5 separate regions of the Homo sapiens genome follow, and regions 1, 2, 3 and 5 are each linked to region 4. Evidence: fine-mapped expression QTL. A gene starts in region 4. Each other region holds a variant in brackets. All regions are shown on one strand. Distances are between the middles of the regions.

Region 1 (4,810 bases), 120 kb before region 4:
CCATGAGCAGGATCCAGCTTCTTTCAGCACCACACTACCTCCTCCCCAGAGCTCCTCGGTCTCATTTCTGCTGGGCTCCACTGCCAGGAGCCCAGGGAGAGGCCAGACTTCACACCAGTCCCTGGGGCTCCCCTTGAACCCTCAGGCCAGCATCTTGCCTGCCTAGCCCCGCAGTGGTGGTGGCTCTGGGCCCTGCCTCTCCTAGGGTCTGGCAAGAAGGAGATGATAACTTGCTGGTCCAACCCCTGCCACTCATGCCCAGCAGCCCCCAGGAGACGCAGAGGGAAAATGGAGAAGGTGGTTTGTTTCCACCTTGAGTGTGGGCGGCCTTGCAGCTCCTTGCATGCTCAGTAGGGGAGGGGACAGTACTAATGGTCACAGGGCCCCTGCCACGTGCTATAGGCTTTGCACACAGCATGTCTAATCCTCACTGCAGCTGCCAGCAGTGATTATTTCCATTTTAAAGGAGAGGAAACTGAGGCTCAGAGGGGCAAAGCAGCTTGCTCAGTGCCTCCCAGTGGTGCATAGCCAGCAGGGATTTGAAGCCATGTCTGTACAACTACAGATTCTGTGCCCTTCCCACCGTGCCGTGTGTGGCAGTTTCTTCTCACAAAGCACTTCCCTGGTCTTACTGATTCTCTTAACCCCTTGCAGAGTGGCCAGACTCAGGGAGTTTGATGCCACTTGATGATGGTGATGACTGGGCTGATGATGGCAGCACTTACTACTGAGCACTGTGTGCTGGGCATTCTTCCACAGCCTCTATACAGCATCTTATTTAGGCCCCACTCACCCTTTGAGACAGGCGCCATCAGAATCAGCTGTACACACACTGGCCAGGGGCACAAACCAGCAAGTGACAGAGCCAGGATGCACGCAGGTCTGCTAGGCCCCAAAGCCTGCTGCCTGACTGTTACACTCTGTTGTCTGCATGTCCCATAAGATATGCTTGATAGGCGAGACAGAGCTGAACAAGACCCAGTGCCTACCCTGGAGAAGCTCCTGTCTGCTGGAGAAGACAGAAGTGCAGAGTCAATCCCAAATTGCAGTGATGGAGAAAGACACAGGAATTGCAAGAACATCTAGATTGGAAAATCAAGGAAGACTTCCTGGAGGAAGTGAAACCTGAGCTGAGCCACAGATTAGGTGGACAGAGAATTAGGATGGAGGAGGTATGGTTGATGAGGAGGAAAGTAGGTTCTTGCAGATGGAACAAGGACAGAGCTGACACAGGAACAGGGTTCCATGTAGTATGCATGGAAACCAAAGCAGGATGTAATATGGGGTGCAGGGGCTGGGGCAGATGAGTCTGAGGAGTGCAGGAGGGGAAACCCCAGCCTGTGGGTCAGGTGAGCACATGTGGGTAGCACACCGCTCACAGAGTGACAAGCTCACTCACACACACCGTCGGATTACTCAAATCAAATTCATTTGATGGCATTGATGGGTTCATAGTGGCCCTTAAGCATTATTCTCTCAATCAACAGAAGTTAAACAAATGCATGCAATTGTATGTGTGGGTGGGTGTGAGTGGGGTGTCTTGACAGGGGGTTCTGAAATTTTTAGACATTCAAAGAGGGTCCTCCTGTCTGATGAGTCAGGGACTGCCATAGCAGCTGGCGGGCAGAGGCCATTGCTGAGTTTGAAGCAGGCAAGAGTCAGGGCTTGGTCTGTGCTTTGAGTAGTCCTCCTTGGTAGCTCCCACTGGTCCTGTGTGACCTGCAGCCCCTGGTGGAGAGTTGGAGGAGTGGGAGGTAGAATGCCTTGCCTGGTTGGTGATAGGACTGCGTTTGGAGAACAGCTTGTCTGGCCCCAGGCCCAATGTGCCCCTCTAGCTGTGGTGTGTTGGGTGTGTAAAGAAAAGCATGGCCCTGCCCCCAGGGCATTACCATCCAGTGGGGGAGGTGATTGAGGACTTCTTCACTCCATCCCTCTGCTAGGAATGGCGCTCACCACTGGGTTCATTCAACTGTTGAATGAACTGTTGAATTCAACTCTTGAAGGCCCCGTTTCGTTCACTCCGCAGTTGCTTATTGTGCACCCACTGCGTGTAGGACTTGGTGCTGAGGCCACAGTGGAGAGTGTGGTGGGCCCCTGGGAGAGAATGGTTGAGGGATTTGGACCTCACCCTTGGGGAAGCGCTGCACACACAGACAGGGTCTCTGCTGCTGAGGGTGGTTGGTTTCCATGTCCCTCTCCCTGGCTGGCTTGGGAGCTCCATGAGGATGGGAGCCTGTCCTGGTGGTCTTTGTGTCTCTATCCTCTGGCCAGGGCTGGCTTGGAGCAGCTGCTCAGTACCTGTGTGGGTAAGATGTGCTGAGTTTGTCCTTGCCAGGTCCTCCTATCTGGGCAGTGAAGCCCATCAGGGACTGCCAGGGCTGGTCGGGGGGCCTCCACCTATGTCTCCCCCTATGTCTCCTACCTTATCTCTGCACATCCCACCTCCAGCTTTTGGTAAGTGCTCTCTTTAGCCATTGGGGTGGGCTCTGCAGGCCCTGTGGCTTTCGTCCCGCTTTGACTTGTCTTGTCCTTTCTCTTCGCTGAGTCTGATCTCCCTTTCTACTGGATCTGCCTTTTTCCGCCCTTGGTGATTTGGCTTTTTCATTTCAATCTAATTAGGGCTCCCTGCCAGGAGAAGGCAGTGCAGGGCGTTCTCACCGCAGCGCTTTGGGAATTAGTCACTTGGTGCCCATTGTCATTAATTTGGCGCCAAGGCCATTTATCCTGGTGTCCTCAATCAATACAGTTAAAAATCTGTGGATTCTGTAATGTCAATACCTGGCCTGAAATACGGAGGGCCAGCACCATTTTATCTCATTAATTTATAGTTCTGACAGGTTGTTGGCTTATAGAACAACCATGAATCAACACTTAAATAAAACTTGCTCACA[A/G]TTATTTTTGGTGCTCTTGTTTCAGTCTGTAATCTTCCTAACAAAACGTCTGTGGCACGTTAGGCTGAGGTGGCCTCAGGGAACGCTGGCCGACTCCACCAGGGCCCTGAGTGTCACCTGTCTTATGAGTCAGCTGTGCCACACGCCAGCTCAGCCAGTCTCCTCAGAATCCCCCGGAGAGCTCCCTCAGTTCTAAGCGGTCCTGTCATGTTTCTTGCAGACTCCAGGCCCTGAGGCAGGTGTCCCAGCCTGACCCTCGAGGCTGCAGCTGTAGAGGCATGCAGGGCCTCTGTCCTTTACCTTTGATGGCTGCAAAGGAGATTCCTCTTCCTGGAGCCCTGGAGCCCCGGCTGGGCAGGGAACCCTGTCCTCCTTCCTGTGCATGGGCCGGCTCTCCTGATGTGCGCTGGCTCCTCTGAGCCATCTGTGCAGTGCCACCTGGGTCTACCTCCCAGATCCTGGAGGCAGCACGCGTGAGAGGGCACATAGACAGGGTACAGGTGTTGGCTCTTCTGCCTCCCCGAACCAGGCCTCTTCACCTGTTTCTACCACACCACCTGGTGCTGGGGCTGTTGAAGGGAGCAGCTGTGATAACACATATAGGGTGCTTTGCAGAATGCCTGGCGTGTGGTAGGTCCTCAGCAAGGAACTCCTCTCCTCCTCCGTCATGGCCCATGAGGCCCTTGTTCCTGCTAAGCTGTCCAGATGGCCCTTGTTGGCAGGCCATTTCCCCACATGGGGCCACTTTTCGATCATCATCCAGAGGCCCCTGCTGGTCCCCTCAGTGAGCTTACAGATGTGCTGTTGGTCCCCTGCGTGGGTCTTGGGGGCAGACTGGGAGGAGGCCTTGGGCCATCATGGGTTCTCCCAGCATCTCCTCCACATTCCCCTTCCTCCTGGTAATGGGACAACACGCACTCTTTATTAGGGCTCTCGAGTGGGTATACAGACCCCCAGCCTGCCCGGCCTGACCCTCTCCAGAGCCCCAGGCACTCATGGCTGCAGGAGGCCTATGGCCCTCTTCCTTCAGATGCCCACAGCCTGCAGCTCTGCTGTCCCCAGCTTTTGGCTGGCTCCTCCTGCCCTGGGTGTCCCAGTGTCTTTTGGTGGGAGTCATGTTGTGTGGAAGTGAGCAGCCAACTGGGACTGGGCTCATAAATGACCATTTCTCCTTGCTTTCCAAGAGGTGTCTTCTTGTCTCTCCCTTGTTTTCAATCTATGACTGGGGCTTCCATTCACAGAAATGCTACAAGGAAAAAGAGAATGACAGGTTATCGAGCCCTTGCTGTGGGCTGGGCCCTGGGCTATGTGCCCTGGGTTCCAGCACGCTGCCTGGCCTGTGTGGAGGTGAAATGAGTGAGTGGATGGTAGACTCTTTGCTTATGTGACTCCTCCTGTGAGAGGAGTGTTTTTAATCCCATTTCATGGACCCAGAAACTGAGGCTTAGCATGGTCAGTGACTTTCTTGAGGTGACAGAGGTGGGATCCAGTGCTGGCATGTGACTAGTAGAGCTCCTGCTGTTGAGGTATGGTGTGGCATGCCCTCCCCACGTCTGTTTCCCTGCTGTGAACAAACAGGGAAACAATGGGGAACCCAACTTAACCTGACTCCTGGGGAGCCTGCTGGGCAGCAGCTGGCCACCTGCAGAGGATAACATGGGGCCTCTGGGAAGAAGGAGTGCTCCAGACTCATGGGGACTGATCCCTCTGATTAAGTGGGCCACTGAGGGAAAGATGCCTCTTCAGTGATGGATGGCCACGCTCCAATGACGACTTTAGACCACTTGGCATGGGAAGGGTGAGAAGTGTCCAAATGAAAACCATGGCAAAGAGCCCCAAGAGCTCCTGGGCTTTGGAGAAGGGGCCACAGAAGGAGGCTCCTTGTTGTGCTAAGCCTTTGAGGTGGTGCTGGCTCCTGC
Region 2 (4,810 bases), 31 kb after region 4:
AGGGTGATGATGTTTGCACAATGTGAATGTACTTTTTTGTTTTGTTTTGTTTTGAGACGGAGTCTCGCTCTTTAACCAGGCTGGAGTGCAGTGGCGCAATCTCGGCTCACTGCAACCTCCACCTCCCAGGTTCAAGCGATTCTCCTGCCTCAGCCTCCTGAGTAGCTGGGACTATGGGTACACGCCACCACACCCAGCTAATTTTTGTATTTTTAGTAGAGACGGGGTTTCACCATGTTGGCCAGGATGGTCTTGATCTCTTGACCTCATGATCCACCCGCCTTGGTCTCCCAAAGGCTGGCATTACAGGCGTGAGCCACTGCACCTGGCCTCAATGTGAACGTACTTAATGTCACTGAACTGTACACTTAAAAGTGGTTAAAACGGTATCTTTTATGTTATATATATATATATTACCACAATTTAAAAAAATTCTTTATTTTTATTTTTATTTTTTTGAGATGGAGTCTCAATCTGGCACCCAGGCTGGAGTGCCGTGGTGCCGTCTTGGCTCACTGCAACCTCTGCCTCCCGGGTTCAAGCAATTCTCCTGCCTCAACCTCCCGAGTAGCTTGGATTACAGGTGCCCACCACCACACCCGGCTAATTTTTGTATTTTCAGTAGAGACAGGGTTTCACCATTGTTGGCCAGGCTGTTGTTGAAATCCTGACCTCAGGTGATCCGCCGCCTTGGCCTTCCAAAGCGCTGGGATTACAGGCATGAGCCACTGTGCCCGGCCAATTCTTAAAAATTCTAAGAGAAAAAAACAAAACAAAAAACCTTTGCCAATCTCCATATTGAAAGGCCTGCTTTGAACTCCTCCAGCCCAGACCCCCAAGCCCTGTAAGTGTTAGCCCTGCCCTCCTCTCCTGGGACCTGACCCAGATCCTTAAGCAGTAGCTGGCAGGAGGTAGTCAGCTCCGCCTTGCCTCGGAGCAATGGTTCTGTTGGTCTTTTTGGGGAATAAGCAGCAGTCACATGGCTACATTGCTGCTCAGGAGTTTGAGACCAGCCTGGGCAGCAGAGTGAAACCCCGTCTCTACTAAAAACACAAATACAATACTGAGATATTGTGGCCCGGGATTTCCATGTGGAAGCTGCTCTCTGAATGAAGACGGCCCAGGAGGTTGCCTGTCTGCCCTAGGCTATTGGACACCACATCCCCAAAGAAATCTGCGATTGTGCCGGCCAGTCCGCAATGCAGTCGCTCCACGTGGAGGCTGGGCCAGACATACGGGAGGACACAGGATTGAAGAGCCGGCCAGAGTGGACAGGGCAGCAGAAGAAAGATGGGGTGCACAATGTTGGGGGACCCTGGACAGCACCTGTGGATGTAGCCGCTGCTCCTGACAACTTCTGGAAGATTCCACAGACCCACGGAATGATGGCCAGCAGCACACGTGGATGTGGCTGTGCCGGTTGGTTGATTGGTTGGTTGTAGAAAAGAATTTTGCCTTGCCCAAAAAAGAGTTCAGGTCTTTGCTTTCAACTCCTGGGAGGTGACCTCTAGGTCCTTGGAATGTCCTGCCAAAGAGTGTCTTCTCCCTGCAGGCTTTGGGCCAGACCAGCAAGTCTAACAAGGTGATTTGAGGTGGGCAGTTTGAGTCACACGGTAACACGGTATCAGCTGGATGTCTGGGGGAAGCTTTTGACTGGGGTCTCCCAGGTAGATGATTGACGGTAGAGGCCCCAGAGAAGATCCTGAGCTGAATGCCAAAGCTTGGGCGAGCTTCCCTAGTTGACAAAACCCCATGTCACAGGAAGTAACACTGTCCATGACCCCATGGGGAGAAGACAACGGGAAGCCCCGTGTCTGGAACTTTCCTGAACTCTGCCCCATGTACCTCCTCCCTCAGCAGAGTCTAATCTGTCCCTTTCATAAGCTCACTGTGAGCATAGCAGCTTTCAGTGAGTTCTGTGAGTCCTTCCATCAAATTTTGAAAACGAAGCATGGTCTTGGGAACCTCCAAACCCTCAGCTGGTGTCAGAAGTGAGGGTGAACTTGTGGACTGTCCCTTATGTCACAGCGACTCTCTGATTGGCAGATGTCCATGCAGAACGGAGTGCTGGATATGTTGACTGTCACCTTGGTGAGCAGGATTTTGAGAAAGAGCAGTTGATGTCGGTTCCCTCTTATAGGTTATCCTAGAGTAGTTGAGAGAGAGAGAGCAAGAGAGAGAGAGAGAGCGAGAGAGAGAGAG[C/CGAGA]GAGAGAGAGAGAGAGAGAGAGAGAGAGAGAGAGAGGAGACTTCCTGCCTCAGCTCAGAGCTCACCGGGTAGCTGCTTCCTGGTAGATCTGTGTTAGGGTGCCACCCTGGAAAGTTGGAGTGAGGGAAAAGGGGAGTGGGGGAGGCTGTGCACAGGAGAGCGCAGGAGAAGCACAGCCTTTGTTCTGTCTCCTGGGATGACTTCAGAGGCTGCCTGAAAATTCTTATGTGGAGCATGTGTATGGGCGGTGGGAGGGAGAAGAAATGATCCCAAACTCTTGTCTCCTATTGGTCAAAGCAACTGGGGAGATCCCTAACCTCTAGAGAAACTGGAGTGACAGATGCTGGTTCCCCTTGGTGTGCGTGGGAGGGAGGCAGCCTGGGTTAGAAGCTGCGTTTTGCGGGAGACCTGGCAGGCTGGACTGGACAGGGCTTCCTGGGCAAGAACTCCTGGGGGCACCCGGCTTCCTTCCGGCTGTCGAACTTCCTAAATGAACATCCAACATATCCTTCTTATGAGGAAGAGAGAAGCCTTAAGGACTTTGGTCCCTGGGATGGGACCAGAACCAGTAGAGTTTGAGCTAAAAACAAAGACCGCCTTAAGGAGGGCCGGCTTTCAGAAAGCCTCGCTTGTTTGGGAACCTTCCTAAAATAACACTGTTCGAAAGCTAAGACAAGAGCTCAGTTGTGCAAACCATAGGGAGTTTTAATCTGTGTGCCTGCTTGCGCCTGCCAGCTCGGCACGTGCTCGGAATCGGAGGCCAGTCTCTGGAGGGTTCTCTGCTGGAGTGGCTTGAATGAGGCCTTCATGCAGAAGCAGATCCCACCCTCACTTCTCTGAAGGATGATAGCAGGCTCCAGGGCCCTGAGTGGGGCACTGATCAAATGCGTGGGTCCTTCTTAGGATCTTTTTAATGGGTTGCTCCTTTTTAAATGATGCTCAGTTCTCAGTGGGCGTCTCTGCCCTTCTGAAAGACGAGGCTGCCTCCTGCCCACCCTCATCGTAGGCAGCCAGGGTCCTGGCACGGGGAGGGAGCTGCCACTGCCGAGGAGTGTCTCTTCCTGTGAGCAGCTGCGGCTGGCTGCCCAGAGCTTTCTGGGGAAGTAGGATCAGAGCTGTGGCTCTGATGGGGTTTTCTCTGCCCTGGCGGGAGGGGTGAGAAAAATGAAGAAGTCAGGTCACTGCTACTCTTCCTGGGAGGAAGACTGGGGGAAACGTTATAATGTTTTGGCTCAAATCCTCTTTGTGAGAAGGTTCTGTGAGTCCAGAAAGGATAGGGTCACCATCTGACTTCTAAGGGTGATTGGACTTTGGGTGCCAGTAGAGCCTCCCAAGATTCTGCTGCCAGGGGAGGGTGGTGGGGGTTGGTCACAGCAGGAGCTGACATTTTCTGTCAAATGCTGCCTTGTTTGTCATTGCACCCAGAAAATTAATGGTGGTAGCAGGAGCAGTTTCTGCCAGCCAGGCTCGCTGCTAAGCACACGAGCGCCTTTAAGCCTCACCGCAGCCCTTATCCTCACTTCCAAATGCACCGTGCTCTAAACATTGAGAACGTTTTCCTAAGCTTGGCAGCACAGCCAGATGTGATTCGACACAAGGCTATTTGTGATCTTTATTGATCCCTTGGAGTCAATATGCACACATCACACTGGGAGATATGGATGTTTGATTAGGAAGTGCTATCCCGGCCCCTGGGGGTTGTTATGTAATAGATGGTATAAGTGCCATGTGACCTGTCTGAGAGCCACACAACTTGAATTTCTAGTAGACATCTGGCCTTGAGGCTTCTGGAGAAGGGACTTGGGACCTATATTCGCCTTATTTTATAGACATGTCATTTGAAGCGTTGGAGTCAGGAAGAGAAGCTGAAGCTGGGATTTGCTCCCAGCTCCGTGAGACCTGAAGCTGGGGCACTTTGCAAGCCTTCCATGCAAAACCCAGTCTGGCTCTGAGGTACAGGCTCAGTTTGCTCAAAGGAAAGATTTCTCCAGTGTTGTCTGGATTTGTGTGGCCGTCAGAAGAGCACAAGGCGTGTCAAGTTCATGCAATGCCACTGACAATGAGTGAACACTGCCATCACCGTCACAGTTGCCATGATGATCTCGCCTGAGCCTCACAGCCCTGGGAGTGGGCGGCATCACCCCCATTTGACAGGGATACTCAGGACCCTGGTGACAGGCTTACAGGTCACCCGACTGGGAGGGGAAGTCGGGGATCCAGGCTTTGCCCAACATTTGCAGCAGTTTCCCCTACACTCCTGGAGGCAGGGGTGACTTATGAAATGAGACTAATTTGGAAGCTGCTGGATAACTAGAGATAGGAGTGACCTGGGCCCTGCCGCCAGGGAGCCCAGTCTAGTTCAGGAGCAGAGCTGCAGCAAGCTGAGGGCAGAGATCACCTAAGACAGCACATCTCCAGGGACCCTTCAAGGGCTGTGAGCCCAAGGGACCCTGGCTGGAGGCTGGGGGCGCCTGTGGCCTCTCTCCTGTGCACCCTCCCTGTGGTCCTGAGCCCTGAGGGAAAGGCTGGTCCAGGGAGGCCTTGCCTGGGAGGGGTGGAGAAGAAGCAGCTAAGGTTGGTGCTCTCCTGCCAGGAGCTGTCAGCACCT
Region 3 (4,810 bases), 43 kb before region 4:
GGACACTCTGGCAGAGCGAACAGGTGGAGGCAAGCACTCTGGCCACCCAGGGCCCGGGGCTGCTGGAGTCGGAGTCCCGAGGTTGAGTTCTGGCTCCGTCTGCGAGACACCACCTGGGTCACCTGGGAAACCACTCAAGCTGGCCATGCCTTAGTTTCCTCATGTGCACCAACCCTGCAGAGAGGGCCCCAGGACTAGTGTCCACTTAGGTAAGGGGCCTGGCCTTGTCACGTTAAGAAGCACCTCCTGTCCCGAGCCCATGTCCTCCTGTCCTCCTGTTAGAGCCACACTCCTTAGAAGGGTGGCCTGTGTCTGGAACCACCGCTCCACTCCACCACCGACCTCCAGTTCCCCAAATCCCAATGCCTCTCCTTGGCCCTCTGACCTGGTCTCTCAGCAGCTGGCAAGCCAGCCGGCCAGGGCATTGACTGCAGCCCCCTTCTCAAGTGGTTGTTGGGCCACCATACTCGCCTGGTGTCCCCCAGCCTACTGGCCACTCCCTCCCAGGCATCCTTGCTGGTCCCTACTCCGTCCTGGGGCCTCCCTGCTTCTCATCTGCATGCTGCCTGGGCAGTCTCCGCCGGCATGCCGGCCTTCACGCTCAACTCCAGACCCGGGCCTCCTGCTGCCCTGGTGACATCTCCGCTCCAAGGGGTCCTGTGCATCTCCCACCCAGCTCCTGTCCCTCCCCAGCTGTCCCCAGCCAGGAAATGGCAGGCAACTCCTTTTGTTTGGGCTCTGAATCCTGTAGCTGGGTTGGACTCAGCTCTTCTTCTAACAACCCACATCCTAAATCTTGGTTAGTCCTGTTGATTCTATTTTCAAAACACAACCAGAATCCCAGCCCTCTGCCCAGTTCCACCGTCATCTGAGCCACCATCATCTTTTGGACTATGGTCCTGGCCTCCTCCTGATCTTCCTGCTCCTGTCCTCGTCCCTACAGCCTGTTTCCAGCATGGCAGCCACGTGAGCCCTGGGAAGCTGCACGTGCAATCACGTTGCTCCTCTGTTTTCAGAACCCTCCATGGCTCCCCACTGCACTCAGAATAAAGCCCAGGTTTCTGGGAGGAGCCTCTACAACATTGCCTCCTATGGTCTTTCTGACCTCAGACCCTGGCTCCCCCTCCCGCTGGGCGCTCCTTGGCCCCTTTGGGATCCTCCGAGTTAACCAGGTACAGCTGCACACCACGGTTGCTTCTGCCTGGAAGCAATGCTTCTCCCACGGATGTCTGCATGGCTGGCTCCTTCACTCCCTCAGGTCCTGGCACAGCAGCCCCTTCCAGAAGCACCCTCTTGAAATCTGCAGGCCCTGCAGCTGGCGACTCCCTGGTACCGTTCTTCGCTTTCTGTTTCTCTATAGCATTTCACACTTCTAACATACCCCAGAGTTTGCCCCACTCAGATGTGAACTCCACGTGGCCAGAGGTGTTTTTTTTTTTGTTTTTTTTTTTGCCTGTGTTGTTCACACCATCATCTTGGAGCCTAGTAGGGTCTGGCAAGGTAGAAGCTAATTCGTGAATGCAGAGGCAGCTGTCCAGGGTCTGTGGAGGGCAACTGGGCCCATCTCACAGGGTCCCTGAAATTAGGCCCCATGGGCAGCCACACGGCTGTGATGCAACACTGGGACTGGCCAAGGGCAGGAGTCCTGAGTGGCCATGACCCCACCTTGGGATCAGGAAGCCTTGCCTTGAATGGGATAATATGGCCCCGCATCCCCTAGCTCAAGTCCTTACAGCAGAGGGTCTGTTTAAGGACACCCTTGGCGTCCTCAATGAGACAGCACCATCTTTCCCCAACTGCAGCAGGTCCTTCTCAAAGCCCTGACCAGCCTGTCCATCCACCTGTACCCTGCACCAGCCCCTTGAGGCTGGGGCCAAAGCAGCTGAGCTCAGGACCCTTCAGAGTCAGAATGTGACTCCCAGTGCATCCTGGGAAGCCCTCGCCTAGGCCCACCGGCAGTCTTCCATGGGCCAAGTGTGTGCGGCACTCACGTTGTCCTCTGACAGCTTGTCGATGGTCACCTTGGCTTCTAGCAGATGGCTGTTGAGGGCAACAATCTCGTGGCTCAGCGCACGCTTCTCCTCCTCATAGTGCTGGCCCTGGGGGTGGGACAGTGGGAGGAGGAGGCCCGTGGTTGGCTCCTGGTGAGCCAACCCAGTCGCTCGATTGCACCCCCTGGTTTGTCCCTTGTAGCCATGAGTGACAAGACACTTAGAGGGCCAAGGGTGTGGGGTTTATGAGCACAGACAGACCCTGGTTCAATTCCTGGGTCCAACACTGCCAAGCCACACAGCCTTGGGGACGTCACTGCCTCTGAGCCTCAGTTTCTCATGTGCAACACAGAGGTGACAGCGTCCTGCCTCAGGAGCTGGGAGTGGGGACGGAGGACAGATGACTTGTGCCTGGCATAGAGCCCAGCCCACCTCACTGGACAGATTGGGAAACTGAGGCTCAGGAAAGGGCCGGTGTCCAGGCACCCAGGCAGAGCCAGGCCCAGCCCCCAGGCCTGCCACCCCCCGTCTCTGATAGCACCACAAAGGTGGGCAGGTTGTTGCTTTCAAAACCAAAATGAGCTGGTCACCAAAGTAGAAAGAAAGGAAACCTCTTCATCCTAGTGAGGGAGTGGCACCAGAAACCCACACCCTGCCCCTCTTCGACATGTCCCAGCAGTGTGTTCACAGAGAAAATGGCGACCCCACTGAGGTCACCTGCAGGTGGTGTGAGGGTCCCCACAGAGGGGTCCCCATGAGAGGCGGAGCTGGGGCTCAAACCTGCCTCTGGCTCACCCAGGGCCTGAATTCGGG[C/T]CTCCCTATCCTCCTGGGCCCAGGTCCTTGGACTGGCAGGCTGAGCTGGGGGGCCCGTTCCCAGTGTATGTCCTCCGTCCACAGCCCCTCTTACACACCCCCAGGCTGGAGTGCTCGCACCCGCCACTCAGGCAGCACAGGGCAGCCCTGGACCCAAGTACTTCCTTAGCCTGAGAGCACACACCCTGCTCCACATGTTCCATGGAGAAAGGGGTGGGACCAGCAAGACCTGTGTCCCAGCTCCTGAGTGGCCCAGGGGTGTCAGCTGGGTGGCTCCCCCCGGGAAGGAGGTGTGGGGTGGGGGAGTGGGCGCTGCGTGGCGGCCTCACCATGCGGTACAGCTTGTCCTCCAGCTCCTGGTTGATCCTCTGCAGTGCCATGTAGTTGCTCTGAATCCTGGTGCAGGAGGCAAGGGGGTCACTGCCATGCAAGGCCTGTCCCTCCCACGACCCTTATGGCCGCACAGCCTGCTGAGCAGGGTGGGGCTGAATTTGGACCTCCTGAGCTCACCCCACCAGCTTCACCCTGGTGGAATGTGTGCCCCTCTGCACACAGCAGAGAACATCCCATTAAAGCAAACTTTTGTAGAAGCCTTTCCTAGGCCAGGGCCCAGGACTGTATTTCCCCCTCCACCCCGGGACCCCCTGAAGATGGGAAGGGAAGGCTTGTTATTCACAAGAGACTCTGTCCCATCCACACGCGGAGCCAGTTTACTCACATTTGACCCACAATTCTTACAAACCTGTTATGGGGTTGACAGTTCAAATGCAAATGAGCAGGGAAGAAACTTAACACTAACTATGTGATGGGCCCCAGGGTGAGGCTGGAGACATCACAGTGAACAAGACTCGGTTCTGCCGGGTAGGAGGAGTGGAGCTGAGTGTCAGGTGGGAATCAGGTGCTTGGAGATTCCATTGCTGGTGGGAGGGGGCTTGGGGATGGTGTCCAGCCTCAGACAACCTATGTGTCGTGTTATGGCCCCTGTCTTGCCAATAGGGAAACTGAGGTGAAACTTTAATTACTTAAAGCAGTAACTGGCAGGGCCCAGATTTTAACTGAGGTCTGACTGCACTGCCCAAGCTTGGTTTCCACATGAATGGAGGGTGACATTCAAAACACTCAGGAGCTGGGGCTGTTCGGAGAGGGACAAACCCTCTCCCTATGGCAAGTCCTCCCTAGGGGCAACACCAGCCGATTCTCTACAAATACCTAAAACAAATCAAGCCAACAGCAAAGGTTGCATGCTTCTTGCATTTTCTGTTTAAGAAGATGAGAAAGTGCATATTACATTTCAGAAAAACATCCATTTTAAATGTGCACAAGAAAACTGCTTTTAGAAAAGTTTGGTGTTTGAGGGAGTCCAGCACAACTGGATCGACACTTCATTAGCCCGTACGCGCTCAAGGGAAGGGTCCCTAAACTGGTTCATCTCCGGGCTAGACACAGCTTTTCCCATCAGGACCCAGGGAACCATGGCTGGGCCCCGGGTGGACCAGTCTGGGTCTGGAGATCTGCTGGGTTCAAATCCTGGCTCAGCTGCTCCATAGTGTGACTTTGGAGGAAGAGCTTCCCCTACCAGAACCTCTGGACTCCCCATCTGAGTGGAGTCAACAGCCAGGGTGAGAGGGGAGCACCGCGTGCGGCTTTCCGGGCCTCGGGCCCTGCCCCACCCCGGCCCTCGCCCCGCCCCGGCCCTCGCCCCGCCCCGGCCCTCGCCCCGCCCCGGCCCTCGCCCCGCCCCGGCCCTCGCCCCGCCCCGGCCCTCGCCCCGCCCCGGCCCTCGCCCCGCCCCGGCCCTCGCCCCGCCCCGGCCCTCGCCCCGCCCCTCACCTGCGCAGCTTCTCCGTGACCTTCTCCAGTTCCTCCTGCGCGCGCCGCAGCTCGATCTCCAGGTAGTGGCGCGTGGAGTCGAACTCGGTCTCGAGCTTCTCGAGCTTGTGTGTGGTGTAGGACAGCCGCTTGCGCAGCTCGCCCTTCTGCTCCTGCAGCGCGCTGCAACGACATGG
Region 4 (4,810 bases):
TTCACACACTTAGTCATTCATCATTCATTCATTCATTCATTCCTATAATGATTAAAGCAATAGAGACACCTCTGGCCAGCTTCTCCCACCACAGGCTACAATCTGATGCCTGCTCTCAGGCCACAGAAGTCACTCCCCTGACTGTAATGGGTGTTAAGCTTCTGATACGGAGCCCTAGAGAGGAGACAGTGAGTCAGCGGCAGAGGAGGAACCAGAACCCAGGGCTGCAGACCTCCGTCCAGGCCTCTCCACTAAGGCTAGCGACCAGCTCTGCGGCAGGAAGGGGAGTCAGAAGAGAACCATGCGGGGTGATTCTAGACCAACACGGCGAGTCCTAGGGTCACCCACCCATCTGTCCCAGGGATCCTTACCTCCCTTAGGGGGAGGAGCCACACCTCCCCACCGCCATGGCTTCCACACTCCAGCAGGACACAGCCTCTCTAAGTCTTGAGACTTGAACACTCTACACTCTCCCCATCACCTTCAGGCCTTGGGCCAGGCTCCTGTAACACACCTTGACCCCTTCATCTGTTCAGCAACTACTCAGCCCTTGGACCCCACCTCCTGGGACCCTGGGTAATGATTTGTGGACTGTGTCCAATAGCCATGGACTCATGGGCTTCAGTCAATCCCTCCCATCCATCCATCCATCCATCCATCCATCCATCCATCCCTCCCTCCCTCCCTCCCTCCCATCCATCCATCCATCCATCCCATCCATCCATCCCTCCCATCCCTCCCATCCATCCCTCCTTCCCTCCCTCCCATCCATCCCTCCCTCCCTCCCTCCCATCCATCCATCCCTCCCTCCCTCCCTCCCATCCATCCATCCCTCCCATCCATCCCTCCCTCCCTCCCATCCATCCATCCATCCATCCATCCATCCATCCATCCATCCATTCATCCATCCATCCACTCTTCAGCATCAGGAGTGCCTGCAGGAGTAGGGAAGCTCCTTCAAAGTGTTGCCGTGGAGATGATGCGTGGAAATGCTGATCCAGGGCCCAGTACATAGCAGGCGTTCCATAAATGGCAGCTATGTGGGCCAGACCCTGCGCCCAAGTCTTGGGAGAGTGGATGGAAGATCTTCCAGATTGCTTAGGGCTCATTTCCTCTCTCCAGGCCTGGGCTCTGACAGGTGTCCCCCTACTCCACCCCAGCGCATGGAAAACTCATCCTCCAGGCTGAGGTTCTAGGCAGCCCTCCCCTCCCCACTCAGCTCCCAGGTGCGAACAGCTCCAGGTTTTGACGACAAACGGAACGCGGAGCCTTGGAATCTATAAATATGAGACAAAAGCTGGGGAGGGCCCTTGGCGGCAGCGCAGCCGCCCATCGCCCAGAGCCCGTGTGCTGAGCCCGGGCAGAGCCGCATCTGCCACAGTGCTTGCTTTTCCAAGCTGCCCTGATTATAGTGAGAGTCGGGAAAATTAAGGGTTTGCAGGATGCTGCTGGGGCCCTCTCTGCCGTCTCCCCGCCCTGCGTGTCACAGATGCCAGGCAGAGCCACCCCCAACGGCCAGTTGCCCCTGCTGGCAAGACCAAGGCCAGCCTGGCAGGGCTGCACACCGCAGTTTGTTAGGGGCTTCTGCCCACAGTCCTCGTGGGAGCCTGGCCCTGGGAGTAGTGGGGGTCTCTGCTGCTCTTGGCAGGCAGAGGAACTAGGGTCCAGAGAAGGAAAAGAACCTGTCCATGGCCTCCAGAGAGCCAGAGCACTGGGGCCTCCGACGGAGCCTGGCTGTGGAGACCCCGCCCCACCCATACCCCCAGGGCCTGGACCCCCAGTCTGCACTGGCGGCCGACCTTGGCCATGCGGACTTTGCACGTGCAGTGCTCCCTATCCATCCGGCCCCGCTCCCGGGTGCCCACTCTGCTCCCATTCTGCCGGCTCAGGAGACTCCAGCGCGTCGCCCACGCTGTTCCTGCCCTGAGGAAACCACATTGGGGATGGGGTGGGGCACAGACGAGGAAGGAAACACCTCTAAACCAAGCAGGAAGCGGAAACGCTGGGGCAGAAATTCCCATCCAACGTGCTGGGGCTCAGGGAGGGTGAGCGCGCCGGCTGAGCCGCTCTGGGCGAGGCCCTGGCCTCCCTGAGCCTCAGTTTCCTCGCCTGTAAAGGGGCAGGAGGATAGTACCTGCCGCGAGGTACTGAATGGGATGGTGGTGTCCGAGGTTCGTGCGCGCCCACGCGCTGCAAACGCTCAATGAGGCGGCCCCGGGTCCAGCCTCCTTCCGGCTCCCGGGCCTTTCTCCGGCCTCCCAAGCAGGGGCTGGCCCTGCCCCCAGACGCAGGCGGGTCCAGGCCTGCCCGCACCCTCGCCACCCGCCCGGGACAGCGGCGGGTCCCCAGTCCTCCGGCCGCGCCCTTGGTCACCCGTCCCTCCTTTCCTTCCGCCGCAGGGGCGCGCGTGTCAGGGCGCAAGGACCCCGCGATAGGACCCGGGCGCTCCCGGCGGCGCGCGGAGGCTGGGCATCCCCGCCCCACCCGAGAGTGCCCAGTTCCCAGGAGACCCGGCCCGGCTCCTCCCGGGCCAGTGAAGCCTCCACGGCGGGGGCGCAGCGCGGAGGGGAGCGGGGCGGGGGGCCGGCCACCTCCCGCGCTGAGCAGGGACCGCCCCAGGCGTGGGTGGCGCCCGCCCCGCCTCCGCGCCCGCGCCCGCGCCCTGCCCTCCCGGCTCGCAGGTACTCACCGCCCGGCGCAGCCGGCCCGGCCGGCGACCGCCAGTCCACATGGCCCCAGGGCAGCCGCGCCGCTCACCGCCGCCGCCGCTACCGCCGCCCCCTCCCCTCCGAGGCCGAGCGCGCCGGGAGCCGGCGCGGCCGGGGCTCCCCCACCCCGCCCGGCTTCCCGCAGGGAGCGCCCGCCCCCCGCCCCCAGCCCGGCTCCCCGCCAGCCCCGGCCCCGCGCAGCCGCGGCTGAGCCCGCGCGTCCTCCCGGCAGCGCCCGGCCGGGGCGCAAGTGGTGGGCGCAGGGCCGGGCAGGGGCGCGGGGGTGCGGCGTGCGCGGGGGCCAGGCGAGGAATGGCAGAGGGGCAGGGAATGAATGAACCCGCGCCAGCTTGAATGGCTGAGCGCGTGAATGAATGAGTGCGGTAGAGCATGCGGGGCTGGGGGGGCGGGGGGAATGAATAAATGAGAGAACTAATGCACGGGCGCGAAGGTGAGTGACAGAGTGAATGGGCCCTTGAAACCCAGAGGCTGTCAGTAATGACCTGCCCAACCTTTTCATCGGTCCATCCATTCAATCCCTCAACATTTATTAGACACCTAGTGTGTACCAACCAGCCCTGCTGTAGGCCCCAGGGGGTACAGTAGCGAGTGAAACCAAGCTCCTGCCCTCGCAGAGTCACATTTTACAGATGAGGAAACCCTGGCTCCCAAGGGTGCCTCCTGGCCAAGCTGCCCCTTACCCTGCCCTTGCTCTGCCCGAGCCCCCAGTCGGTGGCTTCCAGGGCTTGCCTTCTCCCCAAGGAGCTCTCAGGAAGGGAAGGTGGCTTCAGGAGGACCAGTGTTGCCCCCTGCCTATCCCTCCAGTCTGAAGCATCCCACCGACCTGCCCGGTAGAGCCCAGGCTGGCCAGTCCTACCCTGGTAAAGGTGCAGCGTGAACCCTCCTCTCTCCTCCCAGAGCGGGCAAGGGGCAGCCCTGAGGGTGCCAGCTACATGAGGGTCTTCCATCCCAGCCAGCCCAGCAGCAGCCAGCGTGGGAACCCGGGGAGGAGCACTGGCAGCCAGGGAGGGTCCTGCGTGGTGGAAACAGAGCTGGCAAAGCCCGTGTGCTTCGCTCATATCCTCCCTCGGGACCTATGGGCTCATGGTTCACACATGCTTATATCATTTCCAAGTACATGGCAGATTAGAAGATGCTGCGAATGAGTACCTTGTATATTTTTGTTTTTTAATTGTGGAAAACATGGAAAACATAAAATTTACCATTTTAACCACTTTTAAAGTGTACAGTTTGGGGACACTGAGTTCCCACTGTTGAGCTGCCATCACCACCATCCTTATATGCTGTATGTTGTATGCTTTGCAGTTTCTACGCTCTCTCATTTAATCTGGGGAGTAGGTTGCTACATTCAGGCAGTGTCAGTGCTGAGAAAAGGCACTGATAGCAAGGCAAGAGGGGAAACCCAGAAAAAAAGGAGACAAGCAAAAGAACCAGCAGCTGACTGGAGCCACTTCGTGTCAAGCAAAGTCCTGTCTCTGCTCCCTCTCAGGTCCCAGGGACATGATTGGGTAACCAATGGACAGAGGGAGGCGCCTCCAAGTGCACCCCACCACAGTCAAGACAAAATGAGAGGCGGCAGCTCAGGGCGGGGCTCTCCCAGTTTGGGCGAAGCGTGGACAGACTTCGCCCAAACCGTCGCTGGTGTGCACCACGGGACCAGCCTCTTTGCTCAAGGGGGCCTTAGTCTCCCCAGCAGGAGTAGGGACAGGCTCCCTGACCTCCACTCTGGCCTCTCAGGTTCAGACACCATTCAGGCAGCACACAGCAGTGGAGGCATCCTGTGAGAGGTAGTGAGGCCCAGCCTGCCAGCTCCAGTGTCCCTTCCCTCCCCAGTCCCTAAGGGGACAAACACCAATGGGGGATGTGGAACCTGGGGTACAGGCAGGGCTCTGCCCACATTGCCTCCTCCTGGGCTGCGGCCCTTCCCCAGAGGCTGGTCCTGCTCAGATGGTGCCAGAATGTTCACCGCCCGCCCTGGCACTGCTGCTGCCAACGCCACAGATGGCTGGGGAGGCGGGGGAGGGGCGGGTGGGGTGGGGGCGGCTCCTGCTTCAGCTCCAGCAGCTTGCAGGCTTCAGCTC
Region 5 (4,810 bases), 79 kb before region 4:
ATATCATACTCTTTTGGTTACTGTAGCTTTATAATAATTTTTGAGATTGAGAAGTTTAAGCCTCAAACTTTGCTTTTCTTTTTCAAGATTTTTCTGGCTATTCTAGGTTCTTTACATTCGTATTTCAATTTTACAATCAACTTATCTTTTTCTACAAAGATATCTATTGGGTCCAATCTGTAGATCAGTTTGGGGATAATTGACATCTTAATAATGTTGCATCTTCTTATCCATGAACATAGCACATCTCTTCATTTATTTAGCTCTTCTTTAGTTTCTGTCAGCTGTGTTTTGTAGTTTTCAGTGTTTGATGTTACACATGTTGTATTAATTTATTCCTCAGTTTCTCATGTTTTTGGATACTAATGTGAGTGGAATTTTATATTTTATTTCATTTTCCAGTTGTTTGGTATTAGTATATAGAAATACTATTAACTTTCTTTTTAAAAAAATAATTTCAACTTTTATTTTAGATCCAGGGGATACACGTGCAGGTTTGTTACCTGGGTATAATGCGTGATGTTGAGGTTTCGGGTATGATTGATCCCTTCACCCAGTTACTGAGCATAGTACTCAACAGTTAGTTTTTCAACCCTTGCCCGCTCCCTCCCTCCACCCTCTAGACCACAGTGTCTATTGTGCCATCTTTATTTCCACAAGTACCCAAAGTTTAGCTTCCACTTATAAGTGAAAACATGGAGTATTTTTGTTTTCTGTTCCTGCATTAATTTGCTTAGGAAAATGGTCTCCAACTTCATCCGTGTTGCTGCAAAGGACATGATTTCATCCTTTTTTATGGCTGCATAGTATTCCATGGTGTATATTTGCCACATTTTCTGTATTCAATCTACTGTTGATGGGCACCTAGATTGATTCCATGTCTTTGCTATTGTGAATAGTGCTGTGATGAACACGTGAGTGCATGTGTCTCTTTGGTAGAATAACATTTTCTTTTGGATATATACCCAGTAATGGGATTGCTGGGATAAATGGTAGTACTGTTTTATGTTCTTTGAGAAACCTCCAAACTGCTTTCCACAATGGCTGAAATAACTTACATTCCCACCAACAGAGTATAAGTGTTCTTTTTTCTCTGCAGCCTTGCTAGCACCTGTTATTTTTTTGACTTTTTAGTAATAGCCATGCTGTCTGGTGTGAGAAGTTATCTCATTGTGATTTTGATTTGCATTTCTCTGCTGACTAGTGATGTTGAACATTTTTTCATATTTGCTGGCTGCCTGTATGTCTTCTTTTGAGAAGTGTCTATTCATGTCTTTGGCCCATTTTTTAATAGGGTTATTTGTTTTTTTGCTTGTTCAATTGTTTAAGTTTCTTATAGATTCTGGATATTACAGCTTTGTCAGATGCGTAGTTTGCAAATATTTCTCCTATTCTGTAGGTTGTCTGTTTACTCTCTGGATAGTTTATTTTGCTGTGCAGAAGCTCTTTGGTTTAATTAGGTCCTGCTTGTTAATTTTTGTTTTTATTGCAGTTGCTTTTGAGGACTTAGCAATAAATTCTTTCCTAAGGCTGATGTCCAAAATGATGTTTCCTAGGTTTTATTTTTATAGGATTCTTAAAGTTTGAGGTCTTACATTTAAATGTTGAGTTAATTTTTGTATATGGTGAAAGGCAGGGGCCAGTTTCATTTTTTTGTATATGGCTAGCCATCTATCCCAGCACCATTTATTGCAAAGGGAATCTTTTCCCCATTGCTTATTTTGGTTGACTTTGTTGAAGATCAGATGGCTGCAGGTGTGCAGCTTTATTCTGGGTTCTCTATTCTGTTTGATTGGGCTATGTGTCTGTGTTTGTACAGTACTATGTTGTTTTGGTTACTGTAGCCTTATAGTATAGTTTGAGGTCAAGTAATAGGATGTCTCCAGCTTTGTTCTTTTTGCTTAAGATTGCTTTGGCTATTTGGGCTCTTTTTGGGTTTCATATGAATTTTAGAGCAGTTTTTTCTAGTTCTGTGAAAAATGATATTGGTAGTTTGATAGGAATAGCATTGGATCTATAGAGTGCTTTGGGCAGTATGGTCATTTTAATGATATTGATTCTTCGAATCCATGAGCACGGAATGGTTTTCTATTTGTTTGTGTCGTTTATGATTTCTTTCAGCAGTATTTTGTAGTTCTCCTTGTAGAGATCTTTCACCTTCTTGGTTAGATGTATTCCTAGGTATTTGTGTTTTTTTTTTTTTTTATGGCTGTTGCAAATGGTATTGCAAATGGGATTGTATTCTTGATTTGTTCTCAGCTTGAATGTTATTGGT[G/A]TATAGAAATGCTACAGATTTTTACACATTGAATTTTTATCTTGAAACTTTACTGAAGTCATTTATTAGTTCCAGGAGCCCTTTGGCATAGTCTTTAGGGTTTTCTAAATATTGAATAATATCATCTGTGAAGAGAGATAGTTTGACTTATTTTTTCCTATCTCAATGCCCTTTATTTCTCTTGCCTGACTCATTCTACAAAGCCAACATTTCATACCAAAACTTGGCAAGAAAAAAAGAAAACTACAAGCCAATATCCCTGATGAACATAGATGCAGAAATCCTCAACAAAATACTAGTGAACCAAATCCAGCAGCACATCAAAAAGTTAATTCACCATGATCAAGTAGGCTTCATTCCTCGGATGCAAAGTTGGTTCATTATATGTGAATCAACAAATGTGATTCACCACATAAACAGAATTGAAAACAAAAATAATATGATTATCTCAATAAACACAGAAAAAGCTTTCAATAAAATCCAACATCCTTTCGTGATAAAAACCCTCAAGAAACTAGGCCTTGAAGGAACATACCTTAAAATAAAAAGAGCTGTCTATGACAAACCCACAGCCAACTTCATACTGAATGGGCAAAAACTGGAAGCATTCCCCTTGAGAACTGGAATAAGACAAGGGTGCCTACTCTCACCATTCCTAATTCAATGTAGTACTGGAAGTCCTAGCCAGAACAATCAGGCAAGATACAGGACTCTTTTATATGGACTGTGTATCATGTGACCTTACTAAAATTCACTTCTTAGTTCTTGTAGCTTTTTCCTAGATTACTTAGAAATTTTAATTTACATGATCATGTAGTCTGTATTATTTTACAGCTTTCTTTCTAATGCATGTGCAATTATTTATTTTTCTTGCTGTATTACAATGACTAGAACTTTCGGTACAATACTGAATAGAAATTGTGAAAATGGACATTTTTGTCTTGTTTCTCATTTTGTAGGGAAAACAATCAGTCTTTTACCATTAAGTATGATGTTAGATGTTGGTTTTTCATAGATACCTTAAGTCAGTTTAAGAAAGCTACCTTCTATTCTTAGTTGTATGAATTTTTTAAAAATCATATATTGGTGTTGAATTTTGTCAAAAATGATTTTACTACATCTATATGTTTTCCTATGTTCTGCTAATATGTTGAATTACATTGATTTTTTTTAAAGTTAAACCATATCTTTCCTATTTGGTTTTATGATATATTGTCCTTATATAGAGTTTAATTCAAGTTGCTAATAATTTGTTAAGGATTTTTAAAATCTATGTTAATGAGGATTATTGATCGATACATTTTTTCCTATATTCTTTGTCTCATTTTGATGTGAGATTAATATTGACCTCAGAAAAGTGAACTGAGAAATGTTCTCTACTTATGTTTTTGAATGTTTGTATAAGATTGGTATTATTTCTTCCTTAAATGTTTGATAGAATTCAGCAGTGAAGACATCTGGACACAAGACTTTCTTTGTAGGTAGATATTGAATCACAAAAAAAATTAACTATGTGTAACGTGGGCCATTCAGGTGTCCTATTTCTCCTTTAGTTGTTTTTGTTATCTTTTATCTTCTAAGGAATTTTTCCATTTTATCTAAATTGTCAAATTTATTGCTCTAAAATTGTTTTTAACTTTATTTTTTAATGGCTGGGGTGTCTTCATTTCTTCTTGTTGATCTGAGTGCCAATCTGGTATCACTACCCCCCAGGCTGCAGAACTTCCTTTAGCATTTCTTATAATACAGGTTTGTGGTGGGGAATTCTCTGTTTTTGTTTATCAAAAATGTCTTTATTTTTCCTTCATTTTTGTCGTGTCCTGCCCTTTTTATACTTTTATGGAAATATAACTGACATACAATAAGCTGCACATATTCAAAATGTACAGTTTAAGTTTTCATATATGTATACATCCATGAAATAGTTACCACAATCAAGATAAATAATGCATCCATTACCTTCAAAAGTTTTTGTGCCCCTGTGTTTACTTCTAGAAGTTGTATAGTTTTGGGCTTCATATTAAAGTCTGTGATCTATTTAGTATTAATTTTTTGTGTATGGTACAGGTATGGATGTAGTTTCATGTTTTTGCCTGTGGATAATCAAATTTCTGCAGCATTTGTTGAAAACAATATCTGTGCCTTTACCTCTCTGTGGAAATCAATTGGCTAAATAGATTTAGGTCTATTGTTGTACTCTCTCTTCTGTTCCATTGATTTCTTTTTTTTTTTAATTAAAAAAATTTTTTGTAGGCTGGTTATGGTGGCTCACACCTGTAACCCCAGCACTTTGGGAGGCTGAGGTGGGTGGATCACTTGAGGTCAGGAGGTCGAGACCAGCCTGGCCAACATGGCAAAACCTGTCTCTACTAGAAGTACACAAAATAGCTGGGCGTGGTGGCGTGTGTCTGTAGTCCTAGCTACTCAGGAGGCTGAGGCAAGAGAATTGCTTGAACCCGGGAGGCGGAGGTTGCAGTGAGCTGAGATTGCACCACTGCACTCCAGCCTGGGTGACAGAACGAGACTCCATGTCAA

Alleles and levels. Alleles are on the strand shown, and positions count from the first base shown. SD is a standard deviation of normalised expression in the study named. Not every link is listed here.
As copies of A replace G in region 1, the expression in skeletal muscle of the gene that starts at base 2,858 in region 4 goes down (moderate effect, 0.49 SD a copy in GTEx).
For the expression in esophagus muscle of the gene that starts at base 2,858 in region 4, allele G in region 5 goes with a lower level than allele A (small effect, 0.21 SD a copy in GTEx).

The links.
Region 1: its variant is fine-mapped to the expression of BEGAIN in skeletal muscle (GTEx, PIP above 0.99).
Region 2: its variant is fine-mapped to the expression of BEGAIN in whole blood (INTERVAL, PIP above 0.99).
Region 3: its variant is fine-mapped to the expression of BEGAIN in whole blood (INTERVAL, PIP above 0.99).
Region 5: its variant is fine-mapped to the expression of BEGAIN in esophagus muscle (GTEx, PIP 0.97).

The regions. Positions count from the first base shown.
Region 1 is chr14:100,468,977-100,473,786 of GRCh38, forward strand. The region is part of intron 3 of WDR25 (WD repeat domain 25); the gene reads left to right. Among named protein-coding and RNA genes, the nearest start is that of WDR25, 95 kb to the left of the region's middle. The variant A/G (reference allele first, on the strand shown) is at 2,892.
Region 2 is chr14:100,615,243-100,620,052 of GRCh38, forward strand. No RefSeq gene overlaps it. Among named protein-coding and RNA genes, the nearest start is that of BEGAIN, 30 kb to the left of the region's middle. RefSeq lists a silencer at 1-147. The variant C/CGAGA (reference allele first, on the strand shown) is at 2,203.
Region 3 is chr14:100,541,867-100,546,676 of GRCh38, forward strand. BEGAIN (brain enriched guanylate kinase associated) reads right to left here. Exons shown (of 7, transcript NM_001385089.1): 3 at 4,635-4,796; 4 at 3,134-3,200; 5 at 1,992-2,099. LOC124903382 (a long non-coding RNA gene) reads left to right here. Exons shown (of 2, transcript XR_007064334.1): 2 at 1-1,077. Among named protein-coding and RNA genes, the nearest start is that of BEGAIN, 43 kb to the right of the region's middle. The variant C/T (reference allele first, on the strand shown) is at 2,805.
Region 4 is chr14:100,584,560-100,589,369 of GRCh38, forward strand. BEGAIN (brain enriched guanylate kinase associated) reads right to left here and starts at 2,858. Exons shown (of 7, transcript NM_001385089.1): 1 at 2,690-2,858. The coding sequence starts at 2,731.
Region 5 is chr14:100,505,462-100,510,271 of GRCh38, forward strand. All of the region lies in intron 4 of WDR25 (WD repeat domain 25), which reads left to right. Among named protein-coding and RNA genes, the nearest start is that of BEGAIN, 80 kb to the right of the region's middle. The variant G/A (reference allele first, on the strand shown) is at 2,276.